Regions from separate parts of the Homo sapiens genome. Here region 2 is reported to be linked to region 1. The links are microRNA targets in miRTarBase. Many come from high-throughput screens and were not tested one by one. Region 1 holds a microRNA gene; the other region holds the end of a gene's coding sequence.
The links. Region 1 holds the annotated microRNA hsa-miR-4701-5p (UUGGCCACCACACCUACCCCUU, at 1,466-1,487, opposite strand). A microRNA usually pairs through its seed, bases 2 to 8, with sites in the 3' UTR of a target mRNA and lowers its output. Matches are read on the target gene's strand: a 7mer-m8 pairs with bases 2 to 8, a 7mer-A1 pairs with bases 2 to 7 and ends in A, and an 8mer does both.

Region 1 (4,067 bases):
GGCGATAATAGTATCAGGATTAAAATATGCTCAAAAATTTATAGGACAGTGCCTAATGATCTCTGTTCTTAATATCAGACTTGATATAGGAGGTCAGAGGGAAGAAAACCCCACAGGAGCCCTGATGGGAAATCTGTGATCCCATCCCCAGCCTATAATCCCAGCTTCACCTGGAAAAAGTCCTGGGAAAACCCGCCAAGCAACAAAGCCCTCTTACCAATCTTCATCTGGAAATTGTTGAAGGAGTGCTCATTGATGTGCTTCATCTGCTCCATGAGCCGCATGGCGTAGTCAGCCAGGGCAGTGATGTGGGAGCGGCCCACCTGATCGTAGGTGCTGGCGTTCAGCCCTGAGGCAGCCATGTAGGTGCTACCAATCGTCTTGATCTTTTCCAGCTGCCGGAACCGCTCCTCGCTGATAATCTGAACAACACAAGGAGACCTGGCTGTCAAGGCAAAGACCCCAGACCCAGCCCTGCCCCAACACTCATTTCTTGCCACGCCTTGGCTGCCTTCCCCACTTCCCTGTCTCAAGAGCCCCCTTCCAGCTGCTGCTATCAGTGTAAGACTGAGGAGCTGGGAAAACAGGCAGCCTAGGACTCCAGGCAGGACTTGGGCATACAGCTTCAGAAGGTCCCTCCAGTAGCTCACTCACAGAACACAGACCCACAAGTGCAATATTAAGCAATTTCTCCAATCCTTACCTTTTGGGATACTGAGTCCCAGAGTGAGCAAGTGACTTCCCTCCAGAACAGTGAACAGCCCATTCCTGATCTGGATGTTCAGGACACTACCTCACATTTTGCTTCAATTTTCTCTATTCAGAGGACCATCTTGCTTGGTTGGTCTCATGAGGTTCTGTCCACAGACTATTGCCTTCTTCTTCAGTGACATCCACCTGGTACCTATCCTATCCCCCTACAGATCAAGTCCTCCCCTGCTCCCCAACAGTGATGACCCTGCCCCACTAGGGCTGACCCCCTTGCTGCCTCTGACACCTTCATGGGTTCTTGCCTCTGCCTCCACTGTGCATACCCTTACCCCTGATGACTCTGGGTCCCATCAAATCTCTCTCTCTCTTCCCAGTTCCACTCACCCATTCCAATCCCTGGTCTCCAAGTACCCCCCACTCTCTGCCACCACCAGCCAACTGGAAAAGTACCTCATCAAAGTCAGCGATGATCTCGTTGAGCAGCCGCAGGCACTCGACACCCTCATTGTTTGCCTCCAGCTCCACATAGAACTCAGAGAAGTTGGCAATGGAGGCAAACATAACAGCCACACACTCACACGACTGATAGTAGAGTTCATCATTGCGGCGCTCCCGGGCCAGGAAGTGGGCCGCCACGTCCTTGGGCAGAATGTTATGCAGCAGCCTCCGGTTGTATGCCTGTAGCTCCTCCATCTCCTCCTTCTCCCCTGTTGCCTGTGGACACCACACCCATCACCCATTGCCCGACATTCACAAGGGGTAGGTGTGGTGGCCAAGGCTTGGAAGTGCGGATAAGAGGGAATCACATAGAGAAAGAAAGGCCCAGACAGATGAGGCCTAAAGAACAGGCAAAGGGGTAAAGGGGGCAGGTAGAGGATGGGGCAGGGAGTAAGGGATGGGCACAGAGAAGGAATGGAACCAGGGTGGGCCTAGGTGTGGCCTGAGCCTTAGCCAGCTAGCACAAGATACATTTCTGGCCTGGCCCAGGCTCCGCCCCTAGGTTCCTCCTCTTCCCCCAAAGGCCCACACAGTCACCTGTAGTTTCCAGAGGAAGTCTAGGCGGGCAGTCGACTCCACCTGCTGAGCATGCAGATACAGCGCCAGCGCAAACACCAGCAGAATCACAGGGGTCATATATTTGAGGGCCACCCTCCCTGCAGCTGGACTAAGGATAAGCAGAGACATGCTTGGTGTCTGAAGGAGGCATCTAATGGCTCTACCCTTTGCTGCCTCGGAGCCCTCACTTACCAGTCCAGCCCATCAAAGGTCTCATTGGAAGAAGCCCTGGTAAGAAGATAGAAGAGACAAAGTCATCAGTGCTTCCTGGATTGCTGGGTGGGCACATGGAAGGGGAGACAAGAGACTGCATTTACTGAGCACATACTGTAAGTCAGGCATTGGGCCAGGGCTTTTACTTACATTAATTAACTCATTAAGAGTAGAGGTTAAGAAAACCTCTGCTCTTAGAGACTCCTCTACTTACCAGCTATGTGACCTGAGACAAGTCGCTTAACTCTCTAAGCCTCCTTCCTCATCAGTACAACAGGGATCAGATCTAAATAATGTATGTAAAAGGCTTAGCACAGTGCCTGCCATATAGTCAGCCTTCCATAAATGTTAGTTACTATAATCTTTACAACTACCCTGTGATTTAGGTGACATTGCCATTTTACAGATGAAGAAATTGAGGCTCAGAGAAGCTAACTCACCTGTCTAAAGTCACACAGCTAATGAGCAGCAGAGCAGGGATTCAAACCCAGCAGAGACCAGAGGCTTTTTCTACTACAACAAGCTATGGCCACATATCAAAGGAATGGGGTTTTGCAGAGGAAAAGCCAGTGTGGTGTCCCAGGCAAAGCCCCCAAGCAGGAATCAGAAGCTTTGGTTCCTAACCAGAGCCCTGCCACCAAGCAGCTGTATGTCCTATAGGTGGTTAAGATGGTGGATGTGAAAGCACCATGCAAATGTAAGAGGGAATTTTTTTTTTTAATGTCTAGCCTAAAGACACAAGGATTTCCCAGGACTAGGGTTTCCTTGGGGGTAACTATTTGGGGTCACATGCTGGGAGCTCCTCCATCTCCTCCCTTTCCCCCACAGGGGTGTTGTGGCATTCCAAGGCACAAGGGGCATGGGCACCAGAGAGGCTCACAGTGACCTAGAAAGGTGAGGGAAGCTCCTGGGGTATTAAAGGACCTGAGAATAAACTCACAAGCCATGGACGCCAAGCAGTAGGTCATAGTTGTCAAAGATGGTGGCTGGGGGACCCAGCAGAAGCAGCACCAAATAGATGAGCCCCAAGACAAAGATCATGGCCAACTTCCCGATGCTGCTGATGTGCAGGAAGACAGAGCTGGCCAAGAGACTCAGCAGCATGTTCCCGATGAAGTACTGCGGGGGTGGCAGAGGCAGCGTTGGGTGAAGGCAGAGGCCACAGCACCCTTGGGCAGGGAGAGCCCTGCACTCTCCTGCCTGACCTAACCTTCCCACCACACCCCTCAAACCCCCATATCCTCCACCTTCCATGCCCAGCCCCTACAACACACCAGGGCCCCTGGTTGCTCCTAGTGTGGGAGACTCTGGTGAGTTCCTGGGTCCCCAGCGCCCATCACCAGGCCTGGCACAGAAGGGCCAATGTCTGTGCCAGGACAGCCCCCCCACCGCCTGAGCACTGCTCGAACACCTCAGGAAAGCTGCAGGTGGGCATGGTGCCCTCACACAGGGGAGCATCCAGGCCCAGAGAGTAATTGAGCTGCTGCAGGTGGCAGGCAGTGATGTCAGCAGGTGTTAAATTCAGCATCCGGGCTGCACAGCTCCGTATGGGGGTGTGGTTACAGGTGAACTGCAAAAGTGGAGGGGTATATCAGGGTAACCAAGGAGGGAAAGGGTTGCAAGGTACCTGGTGAAGCCATGTACCCTAACCTGGGCTATGCCCAGGTACCTTATACCCCATGGGCCTTAGTACTCACTCAGGGATGACAAGAGGTTGGGAGAACAAGGAAGGAGAACCGGAGTTAACCTTCCCCTATTCTGGGAGGGGGCTCCCTGAGGGCAGAAAATATGTCCTTTTCTCCGCTGTACTCCCAGTGTCCAGGACAGTGCTTGGCACAGAGCAGAGGTGGGAGAATTCCCACTGGACCCTTACCATGTTGGCAATGGCAGAAGTAAACACAAGCAGGACGGAAAAGATGCCAACTGCGGTGCTATGTGCCCGTGAGCGGACAATGCTGCGGGACAGACGTTGCAGGGCCTTAGGGAACAGCTAGAGGCATCAAGAGACCAAGAGTTGAAGGTTGTATCAGCCAAGGAGGAATGGCAACCAGGGATGGGGCCCAGTGGAAGAGGCATGGCCTTCTCCC
Region 2 (4,067 bases), not on the chromosome of region 1:
TCTGCTTGTGACCCTTTAAACAAAAGTGACAACCTTCATTGCTCTGCTCCTTAAATTTGCTTTTTCCTCCAAGAGTTTTTGGATTATTTATGGATCAAGTTTCACTACAAATTTTTCAGACTTAAATTATACATATTTTCACCTTCTCCTTTACATAGATCATAAAAGAATAAATGTCAAAAAAAACCCTCTAATAAAAATCACTACCTTTATTATGGGCATAATTTTAGCTTGTTTCAATGAAAACTAAATTCTTCCTCAAAGATACTTCATAGTCCATTTGTGATTAATGTTAATTTCTTATCTTTTTCAGCATACCTGATTGATAAAGTCAGAATCAAAGGCTATTATGCATTCAAACTGGCTGAAGAGAAATCTAAACCCAGATTTGGATTCTTCACATCTGATTTTAAAGCTAAATCCTCAATACAATTTTACAACAAAGTGATCAGCAGCAGGGGCTTCCCTTTTGAGAACAGTAGTTCTAGATGCAGTCAGACCCAAGAAAATACAGAGTGCACTGTCTGCTTATTCCTTGTGCAGAAGAAACCACTGATATTCCTGGGTTGTTGCTTCTTCTCCACCCTGGTTCTACTCTTATCAATTGCCATTTTTCAAAGGCAGAAGAGAAGAAAGTTTTGGAAAGCAAAAAACTTACAACACATACCATTAAAGAAAGGCAAGAGAGTTGTTAGCTAAACTGATCTGTCTGCATGATAGACAGTTTAAAAATTCATCCCAGTTCCATATGCTGGTAACTTACAGGAGATATACCTGTATTATAGAAAGACAATCTGAGATACAGCTGTAACCAAGGTGATGACAATTGTCTCTGCTGTGTGGTTCAAAGAACATTCCCTTAGGTGTTGACATCAGTGAACTCAGTTCTTGGATGTAAACATAAAGGCTTCATCCTGACAGTAAGCTATGAGGATTACATGCTACATTGCTTCTTAAAGTTTCATCAACTGTATTCCATCATTCTGCTTTAGCTTTCATCTCTACCAATAGCTACTTGTGGTACAATAAATTATTTTTAAGAAGTAAAACTCTGGGGCTGGACGCTGTGGCTCACACCTGTAATCTCAGCACTTTGGGAGGCCGAGGCGGGGAGATCACCTGAGGTGAGGAGTTCGAGACCAGCCTGGCCAACATGGTGAAACCATGTCTCTACTAAAAATACAAAAAATTAGCCAGGCGTGGTGACAGTGGCACCTGTAATCCCAGCTACTTGGGAGGCTGAGGCAGAAGTTTGAACCCAGGAAACAGGTTACAGTAGGCCAAAATTGCGCCACTGCACTCCAGCCTAGGCGACAACAGCAAGACTGTGTCCAAAAAAAAAAAAAAAAGCAAAAGCAAAACTTTGTTTTGTTAGACTCTACAGCAGAGATTTAACACCCTTCTTTAAACTGGGTAGTCAGTGATAGATAATATATATTCTGTCACTTCTAATAAGGTGCCTTCTCCTTTAGGTCAGGGTGGTTCTAAAATGGAAAGAAAACACAATAGGGTAAGTAGTGCTTGTCTAAGCCAGTTACAACACAGACTCTTAAAGAGGATCAAGCCCTTCATTTTTCTAACAACAAAAAATCACCTATAGAATATCTAATTTGTGATCTTTTACTAGATCTGATTTTTTAAAATAATGTAATTTCCGGCCAGGCACGGTGGCACCGCCTGTAATCCCAGCACTTTGGGAGGCCAAGGCAGGTGGATCACCTGAGGTTAGGAGTTCGAGACTAGCCTGGCCAACATGGCAAAACCCCATCTCTACTAAAAATACAAAAGTTAGCCGGGCATGGTGGTGGGCACCTGTAATCCCAGCTACTCAGGAGGCCGAGGCAGGAGAATCGCTTGAACCCGAGAGGCAGAGGTTGCAATGAGCCAAGATCGTGCCATTGCACTCCAGCCTGGGGGACAGGGCAAGACTGTCTCTCAAAATAAAAAAAAATAATAAAAATAAAAATAAAAGTAATTTCCAAAACCTCATCTCATGGAAAGATCACAGGATGAAGGAAAGCTAGACTCAACTCTGTGAATAGAAGTTGCTATACTGTAAGTAAAGCAACAATTCAGAATACTGAATGAGTTTAAATTGTTTTATATAGCACCCTTTTGGGCTAGGGTTAATTACTAGATCTGACTTGGATAATTTGACACTTTGGGAAATGAACTCTGTTCTTGAGACTTGTTCAGTGTATTTTAAACATCTGAGGAAGAAAACTTAAATATGCACCTATTTATACCTATTCTTTCTTTAGGTCAACATTTAACACCCACTGCATACATTAATTTGTCCTTGTCTGCTCACTCCAGCAATTTAGACCTTAACAGTCACAAGAGACGTTCTTCTGTTACAAAGCCTTAGTAAATTAAGGCAGTTTTGATTATATTCTAGGTCCACCTATGTCTGAAGCTAAATTCAGTATCTAACTGCTAATGAACAAGTTTCCAAAATACTGTAAAAATACAATTAGTCAATTTGAGTAAATGCAAATATGATGAGAAATCAATTTGCTATTTGGCCTGGCAAATGGGAACAGTAAAATTCTGCTTTACTCTTCTCTAGTCTCCTTGCCCCAGCTGCACCCACTACCCCAAAGTTGGCAGTTTTGAGGTATGATTTTCAAGGAATTTTTTTAGTATTAACATCTCCCTCTGAGAACTATGTACCTAAGGTCACGCATACAACTAGTCAATTCTGTTTTTATTACTCTAACTATGTAGAAACAGTAAGTCACTTAAAACAATCACTTGGCTGGGTTTTTTCCCCTTTGTGCCACATTGATTCACCCTGACCCAAGAACTCCAGGGAAAATTCTTTAATGTCAACTGGGCAACTCATTAACCTCTCTTTAACATCAAGGGCTTGGGAAAAAAAAAAAAAAGGTTAGCCACAGGAATAACAAAAACCTGGAATTTATCTTTCAGGTTTTGCTTTCTCTTTCTCACTTTGTTTAAAGTATCTCGTACTCACAGTTCACAAATTAACCTTCACTGTCTCTTTCACATTAAGAGCTTATGCTTAAAGCATGCCCCCCTTTTCTAACTTGCTGGTTTACCATAAACTCCCCTAAGTAATAAAATTCCTAACCCAGTACTGAGAGTCCTCCTTCTCTGCCACTTGGGCATTATTTTACTAGTTTTTAAGCCATCATCGCACAAGAATCCAAAAACCCTTAAATTTTTTAACCACTGGCAAATATGTACAGCAAATTAGGTTAAGCATTTAATCTGGCTCATGCTCTATCATACTAAATATTCAGGTTTATCATAAACTCCTTAAAAACCATCAAAGGTCAACCAGAAACTGATAACTCTTGAAAGGAGCAAACAGGTAAGATCTTTGGAGTTTAAGCTTTTCTGAGATGTGTTGTGAAAAATCTAACGTGTTTATCGTATATTCAATGTAACAACCTGGAGAATCACAACTATATTTAAAGAGCCTCTGGAAAATGAGGCCAGTACAGTGTGACTACATGTTTAATTTTCAATGTAATTTATTCCAAATAAACTGGTTCATGCTGACCACTTGTATTCAACTAACAACCTGGTCAATTTTAAGAACTGTTGAATGTGAATGGGTTTGGCATTGTAAATGGGCTCTGCCCCAAGACTGCCTCCCCTGAATCCCTTTCTGCCTAGTTGTGCACCAACTTGGTATGTTACTTCTGGGTATATTTTCTCAAAAAATGTGGCTCAGGTGTGGTGGCTCACACCTGTAACCCCAGCACTTCGGGAGGCCAAGGTGGGCGGATTGCTTGATTCCAGGAGTTTGAGACCAGCTTGGGCAACGTGGCAAAACCCTCTCTACAAAAAACTAGCCAGGCATGGTGGCACGTATTTGTGGTCCCAGCTACACAGAAGGCTGAGGTGGGAGGACTGCTTGAGCCTGGGAGACAGAGGTTGCAGTGAACCAAGATCACGCCACTGCACTCCAACCTGGGTGACAGAGACCCCGTCTCAAAAATATGTGGACACCTACATCTAAAAATTGCAAAAATAGTGCACAAGTGCTTATCCATAGTAGACACAGAAGACAATAATTAAGTTTTCCCTGGAGAACT

Region 2: the mRNA of KLB is a reported target of hsa-miR-4701-5p. Seed matches in the 3' UTR shown: 7mer-A1 at 1,146-1,152 and 7mer-A1 at 1,746-1,752.

What each region holds. Positions count from the first base shown.
Region 1 is chr12:48,770,549-48,774,615 of GRCh38, forward strand. It overlaps MIR4701 (microRNA 4701), which reads right to left and starts at 1,489; the gene lies at 1,427-1,489. ADCY6 (adenylate cyclase 6) reads right to left here. Exons shown (of 22, transcript NM_015270.5): 14 at 3,854-3,970; 15 at 3,392-3,550; 16 at 2,921-3,099; 17 at 1,960-1,995; 18 at 1,747-1,876; 19 at 1,162-1,425; 20 at 218-422. It also overlaps a transcript of SPMIP11 not described here.
Region 2 is chr4:39,447,988-39,452,054 of GRCh38, forward strand. KLB (klotho beta) reads left to right here. Exons shown (of 5, transcript NM_175737.4): 5 at 314-3,546. The coding sequence ends at 699. Among named protein-coding and RNA genes, the nearest start is that of RPL9, 8.9 kb to the right of the region's middle.